Linked DNA regions of Homo sapiens: region 2 is linked to region 1. The links come from fine-mapping of genetic effects on gene expression. A gene starts in region 1. The other region holds a variant in brackets. All regions are shown on one strand. Distances are between the middles of the regions. Region 1 holds the start of SPOCK3 (SPARC (osteonectin), cwcv and kazal like domains proteoglycan 3). Region 2 has its middle 56 kb from the start of SPOCK3.

What was found. PIP is the estimated chance that this variant, and not a neighbour inherited with it, causes the effect.
Region 2: its variant is fine-mapped to the expression of SPOCK3 in T cells (GENCORD, PIP 0.92).

What each region holds. Positions count from the first base shown.
Region 1 is chr4:167,224,531-167,240,586 of GRCh38, reverse strand. It overlaps SPOCK3 (SPARC (osteonectin), cwcv and kazal like domains proteoglycan 3), which reads left to right and starts at 6,093. Exons shown (of 11, transcript NM_001040159.2): 1 at 6,093-6,137; 2 at 6,414-6,602. The coding sequence starts at 6,414.
Region 2 is chr4:167,282,559-167,298,614 of GRCh38, reverse strand. No RefSeq gene overlaps it. Among named protein-coding and RNA genes, the nearest start is that of SPOCK3, 56 kb to the right of the region's middle. The variant T/C (reference allele first, on the strand shown) is at 8,714.

The sequences.
Region 1 (16,056 bases):
TTCTTTTCTTGTGAATGAATTTTAGGAAAAGAATCTCTCCCTTTTCCATAATGTGAGATTTGTAAGTGCTATGCCATTGTTTAAGGCACCTGAATTTGGAAGGTTGAAGTTTCATGTTATAAAGTCCACTGATTGAACTGGCACATGATGGAGAAGCTCACCAGCTTTGTTTGAGCTGTTTGTCTGAGGTCAAGCCTACCTGTCAACTTTTTATTTCTATAGGACAATACATTCAGATTTCAGTGCCCTCATTAATTCAGGAAGAAACCTGCTCCATATATTATCTATCTTCACTCATTGTACTCTAATTAAATTATTAAATTATGTGTTTTTGCTCACAAGAGTGTGAGAGATCATGTTTCAACTTAGCCACATTTTTTATCCCTAGTTTGAAGCTTATTGTATAACATTTAGAGAACAATCAATAAACATATTTAAAAATTGTTTCACATTTTAGTTTAATTTTTAAACTAAAATTAAACTAATGCCTGTTAAAGCCTGTTAACATCCTATTCCTTTCCTTACTTTCATTTATCTTGTAGAAAACGGGATGCTTGGCATGGTATGTATGGACAGTAATCTTAACCTTATACTCCTTCTTAGTATGACTGCCTCACATTAAGGGAACTCTCCATTTACCCAAGAGGACAGAAATAAGTGGCATGAATTTGCAATAGCACTTGGGATAGTTTTTATCCTCTGAAAATAGCTAACCCATGGTAATTTAACAGCGAATGATATATAATGCCCGTTTTGCACTGGTCAGCTAAAAATAAACAAACAACAACTTACAAAGATAAACATAGAAGGTTCTTTGTAGATCTTGACTATAGAAACTCTATAGCCATTTTAGAACAATATACCTTACTCAGCCAAGTAGAATTCTGAGTCAAAGAATAAACTGGCTCCCCATATATTTTTATATTAAGATCATTAATAAATATGCAGGTTTAACAAAATTTTAAAAACACATTGGTATAAATCTCAAGAACCGAGGTGTTTTTAGAAACCTTTTTCACATGCAAATTTTTAAATTTAATAGTCTTAATATAAGAATGTGTGTCTTTCTGTGCATGGGCATAGAGTGAAATTATTTTTAAAATATTCTTAAACATTTTATTTTATCCTTTTTTGTGTCAGTGTCTCATAGCCCTCAGGAAAATTTAAATATTTATAATTAATGCTCATTGAACTTTTCAGAAAGTCTTTATTTTACAAAGTCAAAACATATATCTCAATTTAAAGAAAACACAAACTTTAATTGCCTTATTGGCCATTTTCCTATCATCTCCTTAGTAATCAGTTAATTCAGTCAGTTTCACCCTATGGTTTAAATGTTGAAAAATACCTTTTTAAGAATTATAGTAATTGAACTGACTAATGAGTTTCCAATATCTACTACAGCTGTTAAAGTCTGTTTATCTACTGAATGTTTTAGATTAAGTTAAATCACAAGAGGTCCTGTTTATCAAATTAGGTACCTAATATCTTCCAAGTTTGCTTCAGTGGGTTCATCTCTAAAAACAAAGAAACAAACGAACAACAACAAAAGTCTGTTAACATCCTATTCTAGAAATTCCATTCTGGTTTTGTTTGTTTTTGATATCCTCAATGCACATACTAGTAATGGTGCTACTTTCTATTAAATTAAGAACACACGATTTTTAAGACTTACAAGACTTCAGTAAACACAATTCCAAAATGAAGACATAGAGTGTTCCTTCTTGACATCATTTTATGACGTCTTTAATTTACTCCTGAGTTTTTAATACCCAGGGTTTTCCTTCATTTTTTTTCCTCTTTTATATGCTTAATTTAAACTCAAAGATGGATTTGGTATAAGGCACCATTCTAGATGGTTGACTTTTATATATCAGGTATTGTTTCCCTAGCCTTATAATGAAATATTTCAGAAATGGCCAAATTTTGTTTTTAGGTTAACTCATATATCATTAAACTACAGCTTTGGGTGAAGTCAGACACTTGGAAATCCCTTAATGCACATGTCTCCTTACCTTCCACCAGCTGGGAAGGTAATGGGAAGCATGTATTCCTACAGGGAAGACAAACAACACTTGCTTGATTGGCAAACACTTTTGCAATAAGGAGAGAGAGGCAGTCTTGGTTAATTCTCTTCTCAGCCAACCAGTCGGATTGCCTGCTGGGCTACTGGCTTGATGCTGCTGAGATGAAAGATTCCAGTGGACAGGGTCATCATTTGAGTCAGGGACTAAGGTGCTCATTATACAAGTGGAGCTGCTTCTGCCTAGCTTAGCAAGCTCCCTGAAGTAGCCATTCTCTCTTTTCCTGCCTTTAATTATAGATGAGTCCTAGCTCTTACTGAAATAGAGATAGATAAATAAATATGCAACAGGTGGAGAAGGAAAGATATGGGGGCAGAAGAATTAAAGAGCATAAACAGAAGATGATTCAGAGATATTTCTACATAGAGAAAAAATATCTAGAAACAAAGTAGCTTGATCATTCTCCAGAACTTTCCTTTGCACTTAGTAGCTATAGGATCTTAGGCAGTGAAGGCTAAAAGGTATCATGCATGTAAATTGCCTGGCTCTGTGTGTGGCACATGGAAGATGTGCAATAAATTGGACCTTTCCTGCATATCCTCATGTTGGTTACAGATAATGGAGTAGCATGCTTTTATAGTTGTTGGGGAAAAAAATAACCTATGAAAGACCACACCGTGTGTGTGTGTGTGCACGTTGTGCACGCATTTAAATAAATGGAGTTATATGAAGGTCATGGATCCAACCTCAAAGGCGGTTAGAAATGGACCAGCTGTCATTATATATGCTTAGCATTTTTATTTCTAGAGCTGTGTCATGTCTGAAAATGAGGGTAAGGAAACCTTCAGAAGAAATACATTTAATTAAAATAATACCTATCAAAAATGTTCCTTACATCTTTCATGATAGATATTTGTGGACTGATTTACTGAACGTTTAGAGAGAAAGAACAACTAAAGGGACAAATACACAAATATGAAAGCAAAGTTCAATCTAGCAGTGGCCTCAGCATTGGCTTTTCATAATGTATCTAAACTATGTTTCTGCATCAGGTGGCAGAATGACAACAAAGGGGCTGGGAATCTGAAGCCCTGTGTCTTGCTCTGAGTTCCAATTTTGTAAAGCATGATCTGAAAAATAAAATCAAGTCCCAGCCCTGGCACCAGCGTCTCACTTTACCCACCTCATATGCTGCACCCCACTTTCTGCGTTTTTGGCTTCTCCAGTTTTTTAGACTGGCTCTCCATCTATCTGGGAAGCAGTCAGTGAAGTATTTCTTGTCTACTCACCTACCTTGACATACAAGGCTCCTGACTACTCTCTTCCAATATCTTACTGCCCACCTAATACTCTTCCCTTATTATTCTCTGCTGTGTTTTGCTCTCAGCAAGCTTTCAATGAATCCCCACTGAGGTGATAACTGATAACCAAGGTGTTAACTGAAGTGTGAATTCTCCTAGGATTATTTAAACCTTGAAAGCAGGCTGTTTGAGGACCAAAATATTGATATATAGAGAAACTGATAGAAACCTTTCCCTGTGATTAATAACATCACAACATCACACCTACTAGACTTTGACTCTCACTACCAACATGCCCACTTAGCCTAGACAATGGCAATGGCTTGGAAAGAGAAGCTTAAGGAGCTGTAGGAGCAGTCAGGTGACTGGACCACACCAGGCCAACACAAATACACTGTAGACAGGCTCACTCTGCCTCTTTTGACTTTAGAATTTTAAACTTGCAATTTGCTAGTAAATCCTACTCTATCTTCAGATCTGTAGTTTAAAACCCTATCAAAGGCATTTCTCCCAAGATGAATTCAACTGTCATTGTTTGTTTTCAACAAATTTCACAACTTGGAGACGTCCCTGTGGAGCTGCAGTATGGGAAGCTGCCAGTGAAAGCTAGATGTGAAAACATGCTCTGAACATTGGAGAGTCAGCCACAAAATAGACGTATTTGGGGGGGAAATGCTGTATAAACATAAATATATGTGCTTCCATAAATCTAAAGGTGACCATGTTGGCCTTAGATGGTGCCAGTTATTGAGCTAAAATGTATAGCAGATGCTGAAGGGGATGAGTGTTAGAGCATTATTCCTCATCAAGTATTTTGTAGCTAATAACAACTATCTTTTTAAAAGGTAAGTTACAAAGGTTAGAAGGTCATTTTTACTTTTAGAATTACTGACTTCTGCCAAGTATCAGTTTCTTGTAAGAAACAATTTCTGTGCTTTCCCTATTAGACTTAAATTTAGAAATAATGAGGTTTTAAAACATGATGAGATATTCTTATTAATAATAAAGTATTTCTTCAAATTTTGAGGAAGAGAGCTAAGGATGAGAGTGTGGGAGGTCAAAGGACCAGGGGTCAGGAAAAGGTGATAGTGGAGAATGGACCACCTACTATTGTCTTAATAAATTTACTAAACAAGAATTTAAATATGTAAACTACATGGTAATAACCCTCTGTGAACAGGCAAAAATAAATATCTTTGAAGAATTAGCACACATCTATATTCTTAAAGTTTTCTGACATTTGTTCGTGTCAATCAGGGCTCCCATGAATTGCAGTAGTATGTTCCGTGTTTTTCTCCACTAATTGCATTCATCACTGTAGAAATGGGGGGAATTGAGAAAAACATCTTTTTCTGAGTTAAAAATAGTAATAGAAATTTCTTTCCTATATAAATATTACACTTATATTTCCTACCATACATATTATACATTTATTTTGAAATATTACATTAAAAAAGGAAATTAACATTAAACATTGAGTTTGGTCGTTTTGTTAATATAGATTGCAAAATGTTAGACGAGATTGATATGGAAAATGTGTACTGCTGCTATTCGAATAGCTTCTGAAGTTTTGGAGGCTACAAGAAATGTTCAAAGGTCGTAGCTTTGGGAGATGTAGTTTTGGCTGAAATCTCTAATAATTCAAATAGAGATTCATAATGTTATTGCAGTCTATTGGCTTGCAGACATTTCTTGATTTATGTGTAATATTCACTTCACCTAAATTCTCTAAATATGAGAGATTCTCTGTATCAGATTTTCTCTACAAGGGGCTAATTACTGATTTCCTTCCAGTTTATTTAGAATATGTAGAAACGACATGGAAAGCCAAATATTTTGTCATAAATGGAAGTTTGGAATACAAAATTGGTGTTCGGGCTTCAAAACTGTCTTATTTTGCAGGAGGGAGACAGTAGGCTTTTAAAGTTTCCGATTCAGGTTCTACGTTCTAAAATAAAGCTGCCAGGGAGTTTTTATAAAGGGAAAAATGCAGCTACAGTATGTAGGAGATATAGGTGTTCTCAAACGCCCTACCTCGTTATGCTTCTGTCTCTCAAAACAAAACACACACACACACACACACACACACACACACACACAAAGGAAAAGAAAAAAAGAAACTGCAACCTTTAACATGAAAGTTTGCTGTCGGTAGTAATCCAGAAGCTCACAGCAAACTTTAAATTTTCTGAAATTAAACAGATCTCCCAAGACCTTGTGGATAGATGGCCTTTCTTTAGGGAGGAGCTGAGTTCAGGAGCTTTACAGGGTAGGAAGTCCAGGTATTCTTATTTATTAATGCATAAAGTTTTCCTCAGATCTTGTTTCTCACGTCTGCCTGACAACCCTGGAAATTGTGGAGCAGAGGCAACTGCGAGAGATAGTACACTTTGTGTTAAATCCAGGAGCAGAGAATGAGCAGGCTGTCTCGCGAACATGAGAACCTCTTCTGGAGGGGAGAGGTTACAAAGCAGATAAGGATTCCTAGGCTAGGAGCTACCTCGTCCTCTGGCTCCAGCCAAGCGTCCTATCCGGAGCCAACTGTAGCTGGGATCCAGCGAGAGGAAGGTGGGATAGGAGGAGGTGGAAGAGGAAAAAAACGGAGGTCGGGGAGGGAGGGGGAACGGAGGGGAGTAAGCTGGAGATCCGCGCGCGAAGGGAGGGTGGAGATGGGGGGAGCGCGCCGGGCGCAGGGAGCTGAGTGGACGGCTCGAGACGGCGGCGCGTGCAGCAGCTCCAGAAAGCAGCGAGTTGGCAGAGCAGGGCTGCATTTCCAGCAGGAGCTGCGAGCACAGTGCTGGCTCACAACAAGGTGATGTGCCAGGAAGCGGTTTTGTGCCCGCTCGGGCTGCTGCGGCTGGGGCTTGCTTCCTTATACCCACCTCTCCTCCTCTGGGTCTGCGTGTGTGTGAGTGCCCGGCTTTTGGGGGTAAAGCCTGCGGGGAGGGGACACGCTTGCCTCTGCTTGTCTCCTCCTCCCTCTACCCTCGTCGTTGCTAATGCATGTTTTCCAGGGTCGCTCCTGGCTTCGTACCCCTTATTTGACACTGACATGCCCCCCCACCCCCCGTTGTGTCTCCTCTCCCAGATGCTCAAGGTGTCAGCCGTACTGTGTGTGTGTGCAGCCGCTTGGTGCAGTCAGTCTCTCGCAGCTGCCGCGGCGGTGGCTGCAGCCGGGGGGCGGTCGGACGGCGGTAATTTTCTGGATGATAAACAATGGCTCACCACAATCTCTCAGTATGACAAGGAAGTCGGACAGTGGAACAAATTCCGAGACGTAAGTTCCGCGCACCCACATCCCCGGGCACACGCGCGCGCTGCTCCGAGGCGGGGGCCGCGGCCGCCGGATGTGGGTGGGGAGTGGGCTCCGTTTTCTGAGGAGAGGGGTTTAGGGAAACGCGGCGGCGCAGGGCTGCTGGAGAAGTTCACAGTTCCGCTGCCCCCTCCCAGCTGGTTCAAGGGCTTGTTTCTTGGATGCACAGGAGTTCAGGTCTCACCAGGTTCACACTCTTCCTCCCCCACCCTGCTCTCCCCTGTGCCCCCTCCCGGCCCACAAAGGTTACAAAGTGCTGGCTCTAACCTCTCAACTTTTGAATGGTGTTTCTGGCACTGGTAAACACAGCAGATGTGCCTTTGCGATGTATCGCTACTAAAGTAACTAGGATCGATCCTGTCACTAATGGTCCATTAAGGAATTTGAGGGAGGAGGTAGGAAGATGTAAGATTTATAAATGCCCGCTCTCCAAGGGTGGGAGGATGTTTGGCGGCACCAGTAAGGACTCGTTGAACGCTCCCGCTTACATAAAATTGTCGATCAGATTTGTGCTTCGACATGACTTTAATCTAGAACATCTTTGCAATGCATTTGATTATATTTTATTCCAAAATGAATCACTGCCTTGAACTCTGCGGGAAGAGGTTGCGAGGGCGGGAGGATTGCAGGTGACAGCGATAAAAGAGTTAAACCATAGACTCCCCTGGGGAGTTTTCAAAAGGGTTATTAAGAGGGAGCCAGGTTTCCACACTTGAAGCTAGTGGCCATGGCTTGCCAGTCATTTTTATTTTCCTCACCTGATCTGAATGGAGCCCAGTAAGAGCTGCTCACGTACAGAGCACGATACAACTGGAAGCCTTGAATTTGGTTGTCCCAGTGAGGAGGCCGCCCTGTTGGCTGAATACCGCCCCTAGCCCACCCTTTAAAACGCGGAAGGCCTGAACTGGAGCGAGAGTGGTTCCTAGACACATTGCCAATCCTTACCGTGACATTTGAGAGAATTTCTCGTGGAGTCCATCTGCAGTGCACTACGTGGAGATGAGTTAACTTCTTTCATCAGCTCCGACTCAGTCACCATTTAGGAAAATAAAAGGGAGCCTAGGCTAGCTTTCATCCTGCCTCCTCTAACCCATTCTCTCAGCCTCTCCATGAAGTAGCTGACAAGCCAAATCTAGCAGAGGGATTCCTGAAGAAACACAAATTTTTACTTTAAAATTAGGTTTAGCCATTTGATTGAGAATATTTAATGGAGAACCTTGCCTACATACTTCATGAACAAAGCTTAAGCATCATTTTATTGCTAAATAAATGCCCTTATAAAAGCATACCCGTTGCATATTTGTTTTAAGTTTACACCAATATTGAGTACAAGCAAAAAGGATAGCGAGTGAGATATTCCTAAACCTAAAGAAAATTTGTTTATCATGCCCTCATTTGGCAAAATCAAAAACAAAAACGAAAATTGAACACTTCATCAGTATTTGAACAGTGTTTGACATTATGACATTTCATTATTTAATGGCTGCTTTAAAATCTTCTAGAAATGAATTTTTGAAAGACCTCCCAACAATGGGATATATTTAGTAGGTAATACTGGTTGCATGCTGTTTTCTATTTGTTTTGGGTTTTTTTTTTTTTTAATAAAATCAACTACACAAGATTCCTCGCTGGGAGAATTGTAAGAGTATTACTATCTTCAATGAGAGCAGAGATAAAAGCTTTCTTCTCTAAAATGTATTTTAAATTTTGAATAACTTAGTATTCTCTTATTTTATTCAAATTACTTTATTAAATTATTGAGGGACTTGGACAGTTTGTGAATGTGTTTGACTTAAACTATTGAGACAAGCTGAGTTGCCTACTATAGAGCTAAATATGCTAGAATTTATGGAGTCAATTTCTATAGAGATGGAGATTTTATTGCTATATCATTCTCAGTTATTCTAGGATCTCAAGGAAAAAGTCCATCAAAATTGTACATAAATTTTAAAAAGGATTTACTGATACATTTTATGCAAATATCTGTTTTGAAGTATATGCAACACCTAAAAATAAATATTGATTTATTTGAAAAACTTTCATCAGGTTTTAGTATTACCATTTTAGTAAGACAGTTATGTTTTTGCAAAGATGACTTCTGGAGGGAATGGAGCGGATAAATGCCATCATTTTTTACCCTTGAACCACCTGTTGCTTATTATTAACATGATGAAAGGTATGCTGACAGTGTGGTTTCTCAAATAATAATTCAGAATGCATAATATATAATCCTTATCTAGACCATCCACCCCACTGCTATTTATGTATATTCTTTCCCTTTTGGGGAATCATTAGCTTAATAATCTTTTCTGTAGCTCTCAGGATGTTATTTTTCAGTTGGTTTTCAGCTGGAAGCACATGGCGATAAGGCATTACTTGAAATAATACTATACTGCATGAATCTACCTTTAAATGTTCTGCATGAGCATTCATATCTCAAATAATGATTTATGTACTCACTTTATATGAGGGCAAAGAAACATGGAATTCTGAACCTCTTATTTGAGAAACAATTTAACTGAAGTACTTTTGTGCTTTTTTCCCATAAAATATAATTAATTTTATTTATACAAAAGCCTTGGAAAGCATCAGCATAATTATTGCTTGGATTAATCCTTATGATTATTTTTTCTTCCGAAGTGACTGTTTTACATAATCAGCACTGTTTAACAAGTGACTCCTTAATGAAAGTTTGAACTGTTCTTTCTTTTGAAATACATTTTAAAAGTATCTTAAATAATATTTAAAAATACAATTTAGCATTATATTTTAATTGAATAATTTTAAAAATAAATGTTACTCTTTATATATTTGTAATATACGTATGTAAATATAATTGATTTACAATAAAGCTTTAGGAACAAAGAGCATGGATAGAGTTACGAGAGAGTAGGTGAGCATAAAAACTACTGCCGTTGAGGCTCATTTTCTTGATTTCCTCAATATAAATGCTAAAGAAGCAATGAAAGCAAAGACAAGCTTACAGTGAATAGGTATTAACACAGGAGAAACAAGCTTGCAATGAGTAGGTGTTAACACAGGAGAAACCTCAAGTATTTTTGACTGCTCTATGCTAGCAATGTCTGTTGAATAAAGTTTGTTACCTTTGTTGTCCTTTTGAAGGACGCTTGGAGTGTACGATGCTTAATGTTATAGACATAAAGAGCTTTCACTGTTTTGAAAATTATTAATTTATTTGGTTATTAGTATAAAAATTCTGATAAGGATTTTAATATCTATGTCTTAGGAAAGCATACAAGTTTCACTTAATCTAAAGATACAGAAAAGTCAACACATTTAAACATAAGTACAGTAGATAGAACCAGCATGCTTTACTTAGGTTATAATTATGTGATTTTGAAATAAAATAAAATAAGAACTCCCTCAACAGTGGTATATATTCAGTAGATATACTGGTTACATGCTGGTTTTTTTTTTTTTTTTTTTTGGTGGGGGGCTCTGTTGACTAGTGATAAAATTAAGTACACAAGATTCCTCAGTGGGAAAATTGTGGGGTACCATTACTTTCTCCCAGAGCAGGAGTAAAGGATTCATTCATCCCATTCTTGTGAATATATTAGGAGAATTGGAAATCAGCATCGTTATGAGGAAACTGAATTATTAGCTCGAGTGGCTTATGTATTGCATATTTCAAATATTTATATTTTATAGTTTAATTAAACCATACCCTTTATCATGTAATAAATGAGTATGGAATTTGGAACCAATGAATTACTTAGTAATGCATGGTATAATAACATTATCAAAATTATCTATTATTGATTTCACTGAAATACATAAATTAATTAGGAATGACAAAAAAAGATAAAATATGAGAAGCCCTCAAATATTGTATTTTGGAATCAATATAATAAAAACTTAGAAAAAAGAGGAATGATGGCCATGCTAATTTTTAAGTAACTCATATAATAAAAACAGGATTGTACCCTTTAATGGAAATTCAAATAGTTCTAGATTAAATTAAATTTGTTTTTCAATAAAAATACCTGGGGCTCATTCTGAACTTTTTGTTTTAAGGAATGGTGACCACTAGTGTTATAGAAACCATAATCAACTTCAGTTTACATTTATTCCTTAAGTGATGTTTAATATCCTTTGGGTATATTTAACGTAATAATAAAGTTCTACAGTTTAACTTTACAGATTTAACCTTAATGTAAGCTAAAGAACATGTAGAATATTGAGAAAATGTAAAATACAGGCTGACATGTCTCAGAGGCACTCAAATTATAAGTTGACTTTTAAAAAATATCTGATTTGTGGGTGTTGAATAGTAAGCAGAACATTCTTAATTTGTTTTTTCTTTTTATTTGCCTTTTTCATCTAAGGTGAGGTTCTTAAGTGCACAGATTATTTAAGAGATAATGGATGATGGTGTGGGATATTTCCTGGAACTTAGTGGGCTACAGAGGGGTAAAGATTCTCGAGGGTCTATCAACTTCTACTGTTGTTAGAAAGTAAATACAACAATTTGTTTCTATGTCTACTCCAAATAAAGTATTCTATGGCTCTACAGGCCATTAAAATTCAAACAATGAGAATCTTTAAGGAATGCTCTCTCAGTACTTTGTTTAGGTTTATGATGTGCCTTGATTATATTTCTTGAGTTACAGGCATACTCTTAGCATTGAGGGATCCTCCTTTCTGGCAACAAAGTTGTGCTATTATACTTTTCAACAATATGTATCAAAAATAAAATTAAAGATTTATTTGTAATTTGGATATATTTAATAAAGTGAACTACTGTTCTCTCTGTTTAAGAATGCTTTCTCAATAATGGATATCCAATTCTTATGAAAATGTACATTTTCAGTGTTTCTCACTATGAAACAACATTTGTAACTGTGGTAATAATTACCTATATTTCACTGTAGTTGAGAACATAGGCATTTCTTGGGAATTCTTCACAGTTAATTGAGTGCATTATCATGAGTGTTTTTCTCTCTTTCTTTTGCTTTTTTGGTGATTACAGGCACTGGGTTTAGTTCTTAAAAGCTTGTGAATATAGTGTATATATTTGCAGATCAGAGCTGGTGAAGACTGTAGCATGCAGTAATATTTTTATTGGACTATTATTCATATTGTTTAAATCATGGGGAGATTTAATGGAGAGAGGCAACTGACCTCTTAAGAGAAGCAATAGGCAATCTTTGATGATTCTGGGACCAGTGAGTAACCACAGCAGCAAAGGGCTAGGCTCTGGCAGCATCCTGACTCTTGTTTTTGTCATCAGGATCCTAGTTAAGCCGTGATCACAGCACAAACTCCACACTCCTATTTTTTAAACCTGCTACTACAACCACTATCCTGCTTGCCAGTCAGGATTTAAGTTTGGTTTTGTCATCAGGTTATCACATGACGAAGGAAGGCAGGTCAGAGAATGTCCACTGATCTGCTTGTTTCTGAAGGGAATCTTAGCTAGAGCTGGTATCACATTATCAGACTCTGTCAGGAGGTATGAATTGATCACAAAACTTTACTCGATTTTCTATGTGTTTATCCTAACAGAAATTAAAGAGAAGCAAGCAATACTTTTAACCCTCTAGCTTTCATAACTTCCAGTCAATGACTAGAAAAGTGTAACTAAGTGTAAAAGTGTAAGTAAGAGAAACAAATTACTCTATGTATGTTGTATATGTTTATATGTATTTATGTGCGTAGATTCTTGCATAAATGTATATCTACATATATGTGTTATGTGTGTATGTCAAGTTGACAACAGATTAATCTGAAAACAGAGGCAATTATATATTGTGCTATAGGTTTTTTGTATGCACCAGATATGTGTATAGTTATTACACATAACATGTTGAGTAGAAAGCCAACATCCATCTAGCCACCCCCAAAATGTTAAGACATGTTAGGTTTCTTTATTTATTTCTTTTCTTTTCCTGGTTAGGTTTTCTGCATCTTATAACTTGAGATGATTTCATTTACTGTTACATGTGTGGACACAGTGTGCTTTTCTGTTTCTTACAGCTAGTCAGCTTGCTTGGGATTATATATTTAAACTTTTTATCTAGATATACAAAAGGAACATCGTGTACCACTATAGAGCATTTATGTTGCTACTCTGACAGTAAGACTTTGGGGTTGGATGCTTTTAGATCTTATGATTGTGACTCAGAGTGACATTTTATGTTCTCACACAACTTTAGTTTTCATGATCTGGGTCATAATTTTATTTCATTTTATGTACTTATTTTTAAAGGCTGATCTTTGACTTCTGTAAATACTATCCAAGTCCTGTAAGCTCCTGGAGTATTTATATGTCTTTTTTCATTTATGAAAATCATTTCATCTTTTCTATTCTTTCTACCTCTTCTAGTTTACAGATTTGGACACCCCATTAGACTGTGAACTCCCTACAGCTACAGATTGTAGTCTCCCTTCCTCTCCATGATCCTACAACTCACCTAGCATTACCACAATAATTGTCTCAGAGTTATCACTAGAAAATACTTACTAAATGAGGTGACATTATATTCAAAATACATTGCCAATTGAAAAATCCTTACCTAAAGGTTTTTTAGAGCTGTGTTGTCTTTTATTGGCCAGTTCAATTTCTGGCCACCTCAAGCCCAGTTTTGTAATTTAAATAAAAATTCAATTTTTATAAAATATAAAGTTATAAGTATTGAACCACTTTAGTCCTATAAGTTCCAAAACTTGCCAAAATAGAAATGCCGTGTCTAAGCTGTCGTGTCCAGTTTTAGAATGGTCAACAGCAGATGACAATGACATGCATCATGGTGCTCCCTTGGCCAATTAGTTCAATTCTTTTTTCCACAGTTCCTCTTCAACAACATAATTGTGTTGCTCTAACATCTTTAAATATTTTTGCTGCCTAATAGGTAATATCAAGCACTAGCATCTTCCCTTTCTTCTTCAACTACTGAACTTCAATTAATGGTTATATAGGTAAATCCAGATACTTTACTGACAGTTCAGATTTATTTCTTTCTCTTCCACCTCACTTACAACTGCCAATGCGTTGGTTAGAGAGAGGTTAAGTTCCTGCAGAAAGGAGACCCTGAATCAGAGTACCCGAGTAACGATAGAATTCTCTTTTGCAAGCATGAGACCATCAAGAAACGGGTGTCCAGGCCTGGGCTTTCAGGGTTACTCCCTCAAGCAAGCTTCTCTATTAATGGCCATTTCCTATCTAACAGGAGGCGTTTAAGAGAAAATCTAGGACAATCACCTTGTCCTAGAATTCACCTGAAAGTCATCACACATTACTTCTACTTGTATCCCACAGGCCTGAACTTGGTTACATGTCAACACCCAGCTACAAGGGATACTGGGAAATTTAATCTTTAATGGGAATGATCAGCACTAAAAGAAAGCAAGCGATACTCAATACTCGGAGAAAATGTTGGTAACTACGGTATCTGGTTATGCTCTTTCAATCATCTAAATATCTATTGAAAATATTCTCAGTCTCCATCCCCGTGTCCTCTGATGGGAATGTTTTTTATCATTGCCTGTCAGTTGTTTGCCTCCCTAATCAATCTTTCTTCCAAATTCCATATTATCCCAGTATCCTCTTAGCCATGATGGACATGCTTGAGTAGTGCTTGCTGGGCCAAAACTATGACACCTAGTACCTACTGTTCTAGATGTAGGAGTTTGGTAGTAAGTAGTAGAGTGCTAATTTCTAAAAGGAAATTTTGAAGGTCAAAACCAAAGCAGAGTGTCCAAAAAGCTACCATGTTAAGGAGAGACTGAATCTACTTACCAATGCTGTTTTCCTTTAGTGAAATCATTTAGCATGACTTCTGTGAAATCTTTTTGAGCTGTAGAGCTTTGGTCATAGGAATGGAATTCCTTGTGTTAAGGCATTAATGGTGATTGGTGGGCAAGAATCAGAATTTACTTCTCACATCTCTTAGTTAAAGAACAGGATATTTTCTTGCTGTTACTGGTGTATTTCCTCCGATGCAGAAAAAGGAAAGTACCACTAACAACATTTTGCTGAAATAATACTAGAAGTGACACCCTTGCCAGGTTCATGCAGCTCTTAGGCTTGAAAGCAAAGAAAACAATCTTTTTGGTTCTAGTATCTCTGGGACAGTTAGGAAATAAAAACTGCAGCAAATCAGATTTGCCAGAATTCCCATACAGGCTTTACTCTTTAGATTTTTTTTTTTCTTAACATGCGAGATTACTGGCAATTAGAATGCCTGAACTTCTTAACTGAATCATAAACAGAGATGGTGAGTTGCACTGTCTATCAGGTTTTGTTTTTTGGAGAGATCCTTGAGTTTTTCCATCTTCATACTTGCTACAGAAAAACGTTCCTATTTATTTATCATTTTTCATATATATTCATGGCATGATTATATTACAAGGGATGATTATATAATTTTGCTTAATATGTTACACATAATTAATTTAATAATAGTAATAATATAGTATACAAATATGTAAGGTAAAAGGGTAGGTAAAAAGTCTTCATAAAGTTATTTTTCCCTTGCAGTCATGTCATTTCTCCCAAAGGATTGATGCTTTCCCTAATATTCTTCCACCAGAAGTCATCTGGCCTTCGATTTTCTGCTCACAAGCTGTTTCCTTTATCGAGGAAATAATGGTCTGAATCAGAAATGTTGTCTCCCACCTCCAAATATATATTGCAGATTTTTCTATTTGTAAATTAAGAATAATGGCCTAATAAAAATTTTTATTCCCTCCTTCAGAAATAGCACTATTATATTTCATTAGTTCATTTATTGGTTTTAAAAGCATCATGTTGAATAAATAATAATAATCTTAATCTGTGTGAGGTAGATTCTTCCTGTTTTTATATGTGGCTTGTATATTTTGGAAACTTTTAAGCCATATTATCACTCTTGTTGTAAAACAGAGATAATTAAATTCAGTATTCTGTTTTCATAACTGTTTGATTAGAATAGTTATTGATTATTTAAATTATGCTATTTCAGTATAGAAAAGAAAGTTTTGGATGGGTGTGGTGGCTCATGCCTGTAATCCCAGCACTTTGGGAGGCCAAGGTGGGCAGATCTTGAGGTCAGCAGATCGAGACCATCCTGGCCAACATGGTGAAATCCCATCTCTCCTAAATACACAAAAATTAGCTGAGTGTGGTGGCACGTGCCTGTAATCCCAGCTACTCGCTACTCGGGAGGCTGAGGCAAGAGAATCGCTTGAACCAGGGAGTCAGAGGTTGCAGTGAGCTGAGATCATGTGCCTGCACTCCAGCCTGGCAATAGAGCAAGACTCAGTCTTAAAAAAAAACAACAAAGTTTAAGTACTTTTTTATTGCATTTATCTGTATTATATATCTTTTTTGTTAAGTTTGAACATTTGGTAGCTTGGTTTACTGTTGATTAGGAAATTAATTAGGAAAAAACTTACATTTGGTATACATGGCTAT
Region 2 (16,056 bases), 58 kb before region 1:
TTTTAGATGACAATGCTATTCTTCTTAATAGCATTTATGGTACCCAACACCTACCCTATGCTATGTTCCTTGGAGGCACTTATCTTTCTTTAGCATATAGACTTGTGAGTTATTCTTCATCCAGGTCTTTCACTGATTCAAAATAGTATTGCTTTTATAAATTATATAGCTTTTTCTTGTGATAAGTGCAGGAGCAATGTGTTTTCCAGTATTTTATTTTCTAAGTCAGATACCTGATACATTTGAAAAGCTTGAATTATATTTGAATTGAATTTTATGTGATTTTCATATAGAAAGCAAGAAATCTTAAAAAGCATCATTTTATATACAATCTTTATTACAAAAATCTAAAGCAATATTTTATATATACACATATTTAAAATTATTATTACTTAATGAGATGGGGTCTCACTATGTTGCCCAGGCTGGTCTTGAATTCCTGGGATCAAACAATTCTCCCACATCAGCCTCCTGAGTAGCTAGGATTATAGGTGTGCAACATTACACCTAACATTTTATATACTATTTATTATATCTATATAATATATTACACATTTTATAATACTTTATATCTATAAATGATTCTAAGAACCAGAGTATATTATTTTACCTGTGTCCCAAAGATTATTTTCATATATGATATCACAAATATTGGTTGCATCCAGATTCTGTTGAGTCTCCAAATGGAATATTACAATTTCTGCAGTGTAGTAAATCACTGCAACAGGTGAGTGGCTGCCAGAATGAATGTTTAAAGGCAACTTTATATCAAATTACTGAGTATATATGCTTTTACTTGTTTCAGGTTTAAAATATAGAGAAGTTAAAACACATAAATAAAGACCCGTATAAGTCAGGATGGCATAAGTGGACTTCAAGTGGTTAAGGTCTTGCATTGTCTAAAACAGCACTGTCCAATACAAAATTATACAAAGATGAAAATGAAATAATCAGATAACGAAATAATCAAAGTGATAGCAAATTTCCATTGAAATATATGTGTGTGTAAATATGTTTGTGTGTTTTAACAAAGATAGATGTTCATTCTTTGAAAAGACTAACCAACATAGTGACCAAGAAAAAAAGGAAGCATAAATAATAATAATAATAATGTATACAGCTAACAAAAAAGTGACATTTATATACATCTTACAGATTAAAAAGATATAAGTAGCTTTATGCTAATGAATTTGATGATTTAGATGAAATAGTCAAAACCTGAGAAAAATTTAAGCTTTGGAGATAAGATAAAATAGAGAATCTGAATAGCCTATACCTATTAAGGAAATTGTATCTGTAATTAAAAACAAAAATTAAATACCTTAACACAAAGAAAAATTCCATGCCATAATGGATTCAGCAATGAATTCTACCTAATAACTAAGGAGGAAATATAACTTTTCCAGGAACTAGCAAAAGAGAGACTTCCTCAGCCTTTTCTCTTGCAAATCATTAAACCTCATTTTAAAAATAGGAGGCCATTAAGAGAAGAGAAAACTGGTTATTCTCATGAACATAAAAGCAAAAATCTGAAATAATATTTGCAAACCAAATCCATTGAGATGAAAATGAATAATATTTTATAATTAAGTTGTATTTAACTCAGGAATGCAGAGTTAACCTTTAAAAAAATCAATTAATGTATTTCCACTAAATAAAACAGAAAAATCATATCATCTCTGTAGCTGCAGTAATAAATAAAAATTAATTAATGATAGGCCGGGCACAGTGGCTCATGCCTGTAATCACAGCATTTTGGGAGGCCGAGGCGGGCGGATCACCTGTGATCTGAGTTTGAGACCAGCCTGACCAACATGGGGAAACCCCATGTATACTAAAAATTGAAAAAATTAGCCAGGCATGGTGTTGCATGCCTGTAAACCCAGCTACTCGGGAGGCTGAGGCAGGAGAATCACTTGAACCCAGGAGGCACAGGTTGCAGTGAGCCGAGATCGTGCCATTGCACTCTAGCCTGGGCAACAAGAGTGAAACTCCATCTCAAAAAATAATTAGAATAATAATTAATGATAAATACCCATATAAAGTAGATATAAGTGAAACAAACTTCCTTAATCTGTTAAAGAGTATCTATAGGCTGGGCATGGTGGCTCAACCCTGTAATCCCAGCACTTTGGGAGGCCAAGGTGGGTGGATCACTTGAGGTCAGGAGTTTGAGACCAGCCTGGTCAACATGGTGAAATCCCATCTCTACTAAAAATACAAAAATTAGCTGGGCATGATGGGATCTCTTTGAGATAATCCCAGCTACTAGGGAGGCTGAGGCAGGAGAATCACTTGAACAGGGAGGTGGAGGCTGCTGTGAGCCCAGATTATGCCATTGCACTCCAGCCTGGGTGACAGAGCAAGACTCCATCTGAAAAAAACAAAACAAAAAAGAAAAAACAACTATCTACAAAATATTTACAGCAAATGATGATAAATAGTGAAATATTGAAAGAAACATCAGAGATTCGGTGGAAGATGTCAATATCCTTTTTTCTTTTAAATGTTGTACTGGTTCTAGCCAGTGAATTAAACAAGCAAATGAAATAAAAGTTACAAAGACTGAAAAGAATTTCTACTAGGGAAAAAAAGCACAAAATCAGGTATGGCCAAGAACTCAAGCAGGCGTATCATAAGATATGCAAATAGTCAATACATATGTAAAAAGGTGGTCTATTTGATCTGACATCAGTGAAATGGAAATTAAAAGTAATGCAAATTAAAAATAAGATACAACACATACTTTCACCAGTGTCTAAATGAATGATGTAACAAATGTAGCTGAGGAAATGGAAAAACTGATCTTTTATATATACAGGTGATAAAAAGTTTAAATTTCTACAGAACTACTGGAATTACCTAATAATGTTGAATATGCATATATCTTACTAACCAGAAAAACTACTTGTATGTTTGTACTCAATATAAATGTGTCTGTGTCTATGTATGTGTGTGTATGTATTGTTGACCTGTTAAGCTTGATTCAATTGAGAAAACAAGGTAAATTTACACATACACATATACACATAAACAGACACAGACACATTTATATTGAGTACACACATACACACACACAAACATAGACATATAATTTGTAATAGCCAATACCTAATAAAAATCTAAATGCCTATCAATAATCCAATGGTGAACAAATAAATTTTTATTTATTTATGCAATTTAATACTAGAGCAATGAAATGAATAATATTACCTTAAACACACCAACATGGATAACTGTCACAATGATAGAGGCAGGAGGCAGCTAAATGCCTAGGCAGATAGGGAAGGGTCTCAGAGAACCCCTGACCCACCCAGATCATTGTTTATAGGGGGCTGACCTAAACATGCCCACGGTGAAAAATTTCATCCCTTAACCCATGCACAATAAGGGAAATAAATCAATGTGGAGTGGCTCAAACGAAGGGCCCGCATGCACACTGGAAGCATGGGGTGGGCCCACCAAGAATTCATGGCTTATGCTAGGAAGGAGGAGCCTGGCCTCTTCAGCTCCTGTGTGGGAGCCCTGGTATTCAATTGTGAGGTGCAAACCTGTTTGCAGGACCCCTCTTTGCTGAGAGCCTTCCATTTGCTTATTAAATTCTGTCCTTCTCACCCTTCAATGTGTCCGCGTGGCTAATTTTTCCAGCTTGTGAGACAAGAACCGGATTTAGCTGAACTAAGGAGCAAAAATCCTGCATCAACAACATATGGCTGGATGAATAAAGACAGACATAAAAGTATAAATATATGTATATTTGCATTTATATAAAGTTTTAGAAGCAAAACTAAACTCTAGTGTTACTCTAGTGTTAGAAACCAGAAATTTTTTGAGGGAGAGTAAGGGAAGAGTTGATGGGTAAAGATAGGAAGGATTCTTCTTATACATTAAAAAATTTAAATTCTTGTGTTAGGTAGTGGTTACACAGATATTCTCTTTGAGATAATTCAATGGGTTTCACATGTATTTATATTTGCCTACTTTCCTTCTATATGTGTTTTATTTCAGTATTTTTAAAGCAAAAAGACAAAACAAAAATGTGAAAACTCTATTATTTTTAGATGGCATAATTTTTTTATAAATTCACATCTCTTTGTATTAGTCAAACTTCTTCAAAGAAACGAAACCAGTTGGATGTGCATATATAGAGAAAGAGATGATTTTAAGAAATCAGCCCACGTAATTATGGTAAATGGGACATCCAAAATTTACAGGTTGGGCCTGCAGGGTGGAGACACAGGGAAGGGCCAATGTTGCAGTTGGAATCCTAAAGACATCCGCTGGCCGAATTCCCTCTTGCTCGGTGTGGGGAATGGGGTGGGAGAAGTTAGTGCTTTGTCCTCTTCCGGCCTTCAACTGACAGGATGAGGCTCATCCACACTGCAGTGGGCAATCTGCTTTATTCACAGTCTGCTTTATTCAAAGTCTACTGATTTCAATGTTAATCTCATCCAAAAACATGCCCACTGAAACACCAAGAATAATGTTTGGCCACATATCTGGGCCACATATCTAGGCACCGTGGCCCAGCCAAGTTAACACAAAATTAATCATTACACTTCTTTTCTGAATCATATTTATATAAAACTTTTCAAATATTAAACAATATAAAATTATTCAACAATATACATATTGATTAAATGCAAGCCAGAAAGTGAAATGCAAAGGACTAAAAGCTATTATTCATTTTTTAAAGCTCAATCCTCTGTCACATTTTCCCCTTATTCCTTATAATAAATTTATACAAACCAATTAAACTTTAGTATTTAGGCATGGCTAACAGACAGCTGTTAAGTAAGTAGACTATAATTTGGGGAAGCGTATATAAAATCAATAGTATTTAAGATCATGTTATCAATTTTAAGTTTCACTTATACATAGAAAAATGTATTCTTAGCCAGTGTATAATAATTGATTAATGGTTTGATAACTATATGTTCTAGAATGTTAAAGCTAGATTGTCCAAATTTCTGTCTACAAAGAATTCATTTTTTATTTAATGATGACTGATCTCTCTAAGAATACATAATATAGAGACTTTTAAAATATATATATAATTCTGTTAGCAAAATGGGTAGACTTAGTAGTAATTTTCCTCCAAGTTGATTAGAATTCTAGGGATTTGCATTTTGGTTCAGTTTAATACATTTGTCAGATGGAATCTTAAATTATATAGTAAGCTCTGAAGGCTAAATTCCTTTATAATGGCATTGTTTCAAGATTTCTCATGCTGATTAATGCAAATCTCTAAATGGATTCTTATTTGGTTAACTGTAAAGCTTGATTCAATTGAGAAAACACTCAAGGTAAATTGTTTGCATCATTTAGGTAGTCACTTTCCCCTCAAAGTTGTACACAGCTCTGTTAGTGTTGTTTTTAAATTATCGTGGTTGTATTTATGATGTCTAAATTGCATGCTTTGAGATTGAATGAATGACATTAGTATTTCATAGATATGTTACTGGTCATTTTGATAGCATGCCCTGTGAAATAACAAAAATGTGGCTTATTCATTAGAGATTTGCAAGTAAATTCTACAATTTCATTTTTAATGATTGAGTATAGGGACTAGGTGGGTTTGTCTTATTTTGTTTTATGCTAGAAAACTAAAAATAGGAATAATTAATGGCTAATTTAAAAATATATTAAAATTTTCTCTAACACTTAGAAGGTACTCAAAGTCACCCCTTGGTCTATGATTTCCAATGTTGTCTTGCATTCTGTTCCAAACTCTCAGAAACTTTGATCATTAAAAATACACAACAAAAACAAAGTATTCTATTTCCTTACATGTAATCAGATACCTAGTTTTTAAATCTATTTTTATCTCCCTGCCTTCTCTCCCTCCATGTTTCTCTACTTAAGGTAAAGCTGGTTTGTAGACTTTTCTCTGCCAGGGAGAGAAACAAGAAAACAAGTTTAAATATGCCCCATATTGAGCACTGGAATTTGTAAAATAATTTTGTGTAAAGATAAAGGAATATTTTACTGATGAGAATCTTCAGGGGAATCTGCGTAGCATTTTTCAAAATGTAGTCTACAAACACCTGTGGGATAATCACCTGGGTATATTATTTAAATGTAGATTTCTGGACCCCATCCCGAATATCTGAAGGTCAGGGTGGGAGACTGGGATGGAGTACTGAGAGAGTGATAAACCTTGGATTCTACATATTCATTAATAATTTTCCTTTACACAGTTTTTTAAGAAAAATATCTGTTGTAGGATATTTTACACATTGGTAGAAATGTTTTTAAGTAAAAAAGGAATGGTAATATTTGTAAGCCAAGTTCTTCCTATCACAAACTTCCACTGTCAGCCTGATTTCAAATGAAGAATTATGCAAAGGAGCATACAAAATCTAGCAAGGTAAGGCCTTATAGGTTATTAAAATCTAAAATTCTAAGTCTACCTATTTGGACCAGAAAATTCTTTGTTATTGGGAACTATTCTGTGCATTCTAGGATGGTTAGCAACATTTATGGCCTCTACTCAGTAGATGCCAGGAACACGTCCACCTTATTGTGACAATCAAAAATGTCTTCAGAGAATGCCAAATGTCCCAGGGAGTAAAACTGCTCCACCTCTGTTGAGAAACTCAGGTCTAGGGAAATGTTCACAGGAAACGGATTTCTTTTTCTTGTACTTTCATCTACAAGTTCTATTTTTTGATGACTGTGAAATTTGAATAATCTGAAAAATATCTAACATTCATATAGTTGTTTATATTTTCAACTTTTATTACAAGTAGCCTAAAAAAGTTGGTCTACTTTTGACAAATTGGCTTTAACTGGAAAAGCTAATATTCTTTTTTGCCTCCCCGATCTATCAATCACCCTTTTATTCTACCAAACCATTATTTTGTCCTTCAATATTATTTTTTGGCTAACTAAATTGAGAGATTTTTTTTTCATGGTTAGAAATGGAGAGTCAAAAGTTATTTCAAACTAAGCTATTCTATTACATATAAATATTTTTTGTCCTTCCAGAGAAGTATGATACTCTGCAACCTTAATTAGCTACATTGCTAATAAATTATTGACTGAGTGTAAACAGTGGTAAAATTAGCCTAGTAATTTTATATTAAATCCCCAGTCTTCCATTAACTTAATTTCATAATTTCTCATTGGTACCACATTCAGTTAATGGTATATCGAATGTTCTCCAGTGTTTCAGATATGCATGAGCCAAAGCTCCCAAAGTCATGACACTCCCAGTCTCAATATGAGCTTTGCTGTTTCTTGGATCTACACAACTGCCTGCTGGTATCCCTGGGAGTTCCATTGAGGACTCAGAGGAACATATGGCCCTATGTATTGTGTCCTAGGTTCATAATGAAGAATAAGCACAAAACATGTCAGAATTATGCTGCACTGTCAGGAAAATTCCAATCAATGTAAGCTCAGCAGCTTTATTCTCTAGAAACAGTGTTCTGTCTCTAGAGAGCCACCTACGTGGGCATAAAAATGGAAAACAGCAGCAGTATATGCATTCTGTGAGCTGGCGTCCTAGAATGTTTAGTGGTTTTCTTAAAACTGCTTTCTGATAAATCTCCATGAAATAAATTTTTTCTACTTCCAGTAAAATAAATTTAAACTTAAAATAGTTTCATGTGCAAAAATAAAGTGTTGGTTGTATTTTAAGGATGAGAGGAGCCTTTTTTTCTTAATTAAAAATTTTTCCCCAGGATTAGTAGACCTCACTGTTGTATAAGTATTCAGAAATCACAAGGGGGCACTCTTTTACTAAATACACCAGGAAAAATGGTAAGATTTCAGTGTGTGACTTTTTTTAAGTGTTTTTTTTTTTCATAACAGTAGTTCTATTGATATATACAAAATACTATTTTTAATGATAAATTTAGAATATTCCTCACATGTTACTGTGTCCATAAAAAAAAATCTCAATTCACTAACAATTGCAGCACAAAGGTTAAATAATTGAACTCCCTTTAAAATTGTACTACAAAAATAATTTTCTCTTGAGAATGAGAAAATATTTCCATTGAGAATAAAAGTTTTAGAATGTATGGAAATGACATTTTTTTCTGCTTATACTTAGAAATATATTAATGAGTTTTCCATTTGCAATGTTTGTTTGGTCAGCTAGTAAACATTTAACATTCCATGAATTTTACATGATTTAAACATTTTAGCAGGAATGCATAATATATTTTACTTTAAAATGAAATTGTATTGTTCTCTTTATATGGTGCAAATGTTATCTGGAGTGTTTCAGAGATGGTAATGATATTTGAGGATGAACCAGATAGAGTTTTTACCGTTATGACAACATTAGGACTAGAAATATGAGGTAGTAGGAGTAGTAATAAACTAAGTGTTTCACATGAGTATAAAGCCAACATTATGCTAAGTCATAAGATAATCTATTCCTCTTATTAATAATCATAAATAAAAATGAAAAATAGATAATAACTCTTACAATTTTAATTTTAACACGTTTTATGTGAAGAGGCTAAGAGTATTCCAAGATGAACAATAAATGACAAATTTATTGATGTGGTATTACCATTTTAATTTAGGATGATTTCATTAGATTTCAATTGTTTCAAATGAATGATTTAAATGAAAGTTAAGCCAATCAATGAAAGAATTATGAATAATAAATATAATCATGTTTCCAAGGAAGCTACCTATAATATCTAGAGAAGAGCTTAGAGTAGTTAAAAAGTTCTAGGAGAAGTAAAAAGAA[T/C]CCTTAGTAGTTAGAAAAGGTAGGTGGGGCAAGATGGCTGACAAGAAGGAGCGGCGATCAGAGGCTTCCATCAAAAAGAACCATAATAGCATGTGAATCTTGCCCCAACAACCAAGCTATCCAGGTTTTCTCATCAGAACTGACTAGGCGGCTGGTATGATCCATGGAAAGGAAGGAAGAGCAATGTGGTGCCATGGCCCACCTGAGAGTCACAGAGGGCAGAAGAGCTCCCACCCCCCAGTCAAGGGAGGCACCTTCTTGAGTGACATCTACAGGCGTGGGAGCAAATCAGATGAATAGGGCCTGAAGAGAAAACCCAGCAAACCACAGCAGCTCTACAGAAAAGGGACCTAACCATTGAAAGATAAACAAACATACAGAAAGCAACAACAGCATCAACAACAACAAAAAGAAAAAGTCCCCACAAAAGCCCCATCCAAGGGTCAGCAGCCTCAAAGATCAAAACTAGACAAAGTCATGAAGATGAGAAAGAATCAACAAAAAACATGCTGAAAACCCAAAAGGCCAGAATGCCTCTTCTCCTCCAAATGATAGCAATGACCCTCCAGCAAGGGCACAGAACTGGACAGAGGATGAGATGGACGAATTGACAGAAGTAGGCTTCAGAAGATAGGTAATAAAAAACTCTGCTGAGCTAAAGGAGCATGTTCTAACCCAATGCAAAGAAGCTAAGAACTTTGATAAAAGGTTAGAGCTGCTAACTGGAATAACCAGTTTAGAGAGGAACATAAATGACCTGATGCAGCTGAAAAACACAGCACGAGAACTCTGTGAAGCTTACACAAGTATCTGTAGCTGAATCAACCAAGCGAAAGAAAGGCCATAAGTGTATGCAGACTACCTTGCTGAAATAAGATCCGAAGACAATATTAAAGAAAACATAATGAAAAGGAATGAACAAAGCCTTCAAGAAATATGGATCTATGTAAAAAGACCGAACCTAAGATTGATTGGAGTACCTGAAGGAGACGAGGAGAACAGAAACAAGCTGGAAAGCACACTTCAGAATGCTATCCAGGAGAACTTCCCCAACCTAGCAAGACAGGGGAACATGCAAATTGAAGAAATACAGAGAACATCACTAAGATGCTCCACAAGAAGATCAACCCCAAGACACATATTCATCAAATTCTCCAAGGTTGAAGTGAAGGAAAAAATGCTAAGGGCAGCCAGAGAGAAAAGCCAGGTCACCTACAAAGGGAAGCCCATCAGAGTAACAGCAGACTTCTCAGCAGAAACCCTACAAGCCAGAAGAGATTAGGGGGCCAATATTCAATATTCTTAAAGAAAAGAATTTTCAACTCAGAATTTCATATCCAGCCAAACTAAGCTTCATAAGCAAAGGAGAAATAAAATCCTTTCCAGAGAAGCAAATGCTGAGGGATTTCATCACCACCAGGCCTGCCTTGCAAGAGCTCCTAAAGGAAGCACTAAATATGGAAAGGAAAAACCGGTACCAGCCACTGCAAAAACACACCAAAATATAAAGACCAATGACACTATGAAGAAACTGCGTCAACTATGCACAAAATAACGAGATGGCATCATGATGACAGGATCAGATTCACACATAACAGTATTAATCTTAAATGTAAATGGGCTAAATGTCCCAATGAAAAGACACAGACTGGCAAATTGGATAAAAAGTCAAAAAATCCATCGGTGTGCTCTATTCAGGAGACCCATCTCACATGCAAAGACACACATTGACTCAAAATAAAGGGATGGAGGAAAATTTACCAAGCAAATGGAAAGCAAAAAAAAAAAAAAAAAAAAAAAAAAAAAAAAAAAAAAAAAAGCAGGGGTTGCAAAGCTAGTCTTTGAAAAAAACAGACTTTGAACCACAAAAGACAAAGAAAGGCATTACATAACAGTATAGGGATCAATTCAACAAGAAGAGCTAACTATCCTAAATATATATGCATCCAATATAGGAGCACCCAGATTCATAACACAAGTTCTTAGACACCTACAAAGAGACTTAGACTCCCAGACAATAATAGTGGGAAACTTTAACACCCCATTGTCAATATTAGACAGATCAGTGAAACAGAAAATTAACAAGGATATCCAGGACTTGAACTCAGCTCTGGATCAGGTGGACCTAATAGACATCTACAGAACTCTCCACCAAAAATCAATAGAATATACATTCTTCTAAGCACCACATGGCACTTACTCTAAAATTGACCACATAATTGGAAGTAAAATACTTCTCAGCAAATGCAAAATAACTGAAATTATAACAAACACTCTCAGAACACAGTGCAATCAAATCAGAACCCAAGATTAAGAAACTTACTCAAAACCACACAATTACATGAAAATTGAACATCTGCTCCTGAATGACTCCTGAAAAAATAATGAAATTAAGGCAGAAATCAAGACGTTCTTTGAAACCAATGAGAACAAAAAGACAGTGTACCAGAATATCTGGGACACAGCTAAAGCAGTGTTAAGAGGGAAATGTATAGCACTAATTGCCCACATAAGAAAGCTAGAAATACCTCGAATTGACAACCTAACATCACAATTAAAAGAGCTAGAGAAGCAAGAGCAAACTAATCCAAAAGCTAGCAGAAAGCAAAAATTAAGATCAGAACAAACTTGAAGGCTTTAGAGACCCAAAAAAACCTTCAAAAAAATCAATGAATCCAGGAGCTGTTTTTTTGAAAAAATTAACAAAATAGGCCAGGGGCGGTGGCTCACGCCGGTAATCCCAGCACTTTGGAAAGCCAAGGCGGGCAGATCACAAGGTCAGGAGATCGAGAATATCCTGGCTAACACAGTGAAACCCCGTCTCTACTAAAAATACAAAAAATTAGCTGGATGTGGTGGTGGGTGCCTGTAGTCCCAGCTACTTGAGAGGCTGAGGCAGGAGAATGGCGTGAACCCGGGAGGTGGAGCTTGCAGTGAGCCAAGATCGCGCCACTGCACTCCAGCCTGGGCGACAGAGCAAGCCTCCATCTCAAAATAAATAAATAAAATAAAATAAAATAAATACACCACTAGCAAGTCTAATAAAGAAGAAAAGAGAGAAGATTCAAATAGACACAATAAAAATTGATGAAGGGGATGTCACCATTGACCCCACAGAAATGCAAACTTCCATCAGAGAATATTAAAATTACTTCTATGCAAGTCAACTAGAAAATCTAGAAGAAATGGATAAATTCCTGGACAAATACACCTTCCCAAGACTAAACCAGGAAGAAGTCGAATCCCTGAATAGACCAATAACAAGTTCTGAAATTGAGACATTAATTAATAGCCTATCAACCAAAAAAAGCCCAGGACCAGACAGCTTCACAGCTGAATTCTACCTGAGGTACAAAGAGGAGCTGGTACCATTCCTTCTGAAACTATTTCAAACAATTGAAAATGAGGGACTCCTCCTTAACTCATTTTATGAAGCCAGCATTTTTCTGATACCAAAACCTGTCAGACACAGAACAAAAACAGAACATTTCAGGCCAATATCTCTGATGAATATCGATCCTAAAATCCTCAGTAAAATACTGGCAAACCAAATACAGCAGCACATCAAAAAGCTTATCCACCACAATCAAGTCAGCTTCATCCCTGGCGTGCAAGGCTGGTTCAACATACGCAAAGCAATATAATCCATCACATAAACAGAACCAAAGACAAAAACCACATGATCATCTCAATAGATGCAGAAAAGACCTGTGATAAAATTCAACATTGCTTCAAATTAAAAACTCTCAATAAACTAGGTATTGATGAAATGTAGCTCAAAATAATAAGAGCCATTTATGACAAACCCACAGCCAATATCATATTAAATGGGAAAAAGCTGGAAGCATTCCCTTTGAAACTGGCGTAAGACAAAGATGCCCTCTCTCATCACTCCTATTCAACATAGTATTGGAAGTTCTGGCCAGGGCAATCAGGCATGAGTAAGAAATAAAGTGTATTCAAATTGGAAGAGAGGAAGTCAAATTGCCTCGATTTGCAGATGACATGATTCTATATTTAGAAAACCCCATGATTTTCAGCCCCAAAACTCCTTAAGCTGATAAGCAACTTTAGCAAAACCTCAAGATAGAAAGTCAATGTGCAAAAATCACAAGCATTCCTATACACCAAGAACAGACTAAAGAGAACCAAATCATAAGTGAACTTCCATTCACAGTTGCTACAAAGAGAATAAAATACCTAGGAATACAGCTAACAAGGGATGTGAAGGATCTCTTCAAGGAGAACTACAAACCACTGCTCAAGGAAATAAGAGAGAACACAAACAAATGGAAAAACATTCCATCCTCATGCATAGGAAGAATCAATACTGTGAAAATGGCCATACTGCCCAAAGTAATTTACAGATTCAATGCTATTCCCATCAAACTACCATTCACATTCTTCATAGAATTAGAAAAAAACTACTTTAAATTTTATATGGAATCAAAAAGGACCCCATATAGCCAAGACAATCCTAAGCAAAAAGAACAAAGCTGGGGGCATCATGCTACCTGATTTCAAACTATACTACAAGGCTACAGTAATCAAAACAGCATGGTGCTGGTGCCAAACAGGCATACAGACAAACAGAACAGAGGCCTCAGAAATAACACCACACATCTACAACCATCTGATCTTCAACAAACCTGACAAAAACAAGCAACGGGAAAAGGATCTCCTCTTCAATAAATGGTGCTGGGACAACTGGCTAGCAATATGCAGAAAACAGAAACTGGACCCCTTCCTTACACCTTATACAAAAGTTAACTCAAGATGGATTAAAGACTTAAATGTAAAACCCAAAACCATTAAAACCCAAGAAGAAAACGTAAGCAATACCATTCAGGACATAGGCATGGGCAAAGACTTCATGACAAAAATGTCAAAAGCAATTGCAATGAAAGCCAAAATTGACATATGGGATCTAATGAAACTAAAGAGCTTCCGCACAGCAAAAGAAACTAGCATCAGAGTGAACAGGCAACTTACAGAATAGGAGAAAATGTTTGCAATCTACCCATCTGTCACAGGTCTTATATCCAGAATTTACAAAGAACTTGAACAAATTTGCAAGAAAAAAACAAACAACCCCATCGCAATTGGGTAAAGGATTTAAACAGACACTTCTCAAAAGAAGACATTTATGCGGCCAAAAAACATATGAAAAAAAGCTCAACATCACTGATCATTAGAAAAATGCAAACCAAAACCACAATGAGAAACTACCTCATGCCAGTTAGAACGGCAATTATTAAAACGTCAAGAAACTATAGATGCTGTTGAGGCTGTAGAGAAATAGAAATGCTTTTCCACTGTTGGTGGGAATGTAAATTAGTTCAACCACTGTGGAAGACAGTATGGTGATTCCTGAAGGATCTAGAACCAGAAACACCATTTGTCCCAGCAATCCCATTACTGGGTATACACCCAAAGGATCATAAATCATTCTATTATAAAGACATATGCACACATATGTTTATTGCAGCACTATTCACAATAGCTAAGACATTTAATTAACCCAAATGTCCATCTATGATAGACTGGATAAAAATATATGGTACATATACATCATGGAATACTATGCAGCTATACAAAGGAATGAGATCATGCCCTTTGCAGGGTCATGGATGAAGCTGGAAGCCATCATCCTCAGCAAACCAACACAGGAACAGAAAACCAAGCACCACATGTTCTCACTCATAAGTGGAAGTTAAACAATGAGAACACAAGGACACAGGGAGGGGAACAACACACATCAGGGCATGTTGGGGGGTGGAGAGCCAGGGGCAGGAACTCAGAGGATGGGTCAATAGTGAATACTGGCAGCAAACCACCATGGCACACGTATGTCTATGTAACAAACCTGCACATTGTGCACGTGTATCTCGGGACTTAAAGTAAAAATTTTTTTTTAAAAGTTAGATATACTTCTGGCTCTGCCATTTCATTAGTTGTACAACTATGCGTCTATCTATTAACCCCTGAGGTTCTCATTTTTTTCATTGCAAAATGAGAAAAACTTTATTAACTTTTAAGTCCTTTCTATTTCTAATATCTATGGTTCTAATAATGATCTTTAATAATAGTTATGCCTCATATAATAAGCAATCGTTTGCTCATCCTTCAAGTAATTAAGAATCAGAACAGTTAGTAGAGGAAGACAAACTACTTATTCATGGAGTTCTTAAATGTCAAGTTACATGATGATATGTCCTAAGATTGCAATAACCCTATGTGAAATTTTACAAAGCAATATATAATAATCATTTATATTAAAATATATTTAAGAAATTTGCAGGACCTAAGTTAACATTCCAGCAAAGTTATGTGACTTTTGAAAATAAATACTGTTGAACCAACGCTAGAGAAATGACAGTCACCGTTCTAAGCCATCAGGGTGGGGATTTTAGAATTTCTTCTCATTATACTAAGATTTGCCTTTTAGAATTTATATTTATGCCACATATAATCATATGTTGGTTGTGGTTCTATGTATGAATTTTTATTATATTGATTTTTAAAATGGCCTGTGTAATTTAAGAAAATGTTACTATTAATGATTACATTGGGCACTCATTTTTACATTGGGTTTAATCATTCAATTTCAACAATATTTCATTAGCTTCTTGTTCACAGAAGCCAAACCATATGTCAAAAGCTCACAGCTGGTTTTAGTCACAAGCTTTGAATTGGAATTTAAGTTTTCTAGTTGAAATCCCAGTGATTTCCCACAATGTAAGAACTACCAGAAAATATGTTTTCTGTGTAGTTGACCATTAGTCTGAAGCTTTAGAAATATCTTAAATTTTAAAGCTATAGATACTTGAAAAAAAACTATGTTTATCACAATTTGCTTGTATTAAAATACAATGGACTCTAATCACATGGATGTTTTAAAGAAAACTGCACCCCTAAAAAAGAAAGTCCAAGTTCTCTGTCAACATATTTTCTTAATATTGTCATGGTATATGTCTACATCACGGTCAAAACTGTCGTGGGTTTTGAAAAAATATGATAATATCCTTTAAGGAGAGATGGTAAAAAAAGAAAATAGATATGACTGGAGAAGTGTTTAAATGCTAGAGCCATGAAAAATCTCTTTTTCATTCAAAAACAAATTTAATTTGTTTCATTCAAAAACACCTATTGTTTTTCAAGATATACTCTATTGACTCAGACCTGAAATTCTGAGTAATGCACATACACCAGGAATGACAAATCACACTGAGAAAAGACAATGTGTATGACCGCATAGTCTTTCTGTAATATATCAAAATGTGAGTCTGAGGTATCATTTTCTCTTTTTCTTCCTTTTCTTCCTTCCTCCTTCTTTCAGTTTT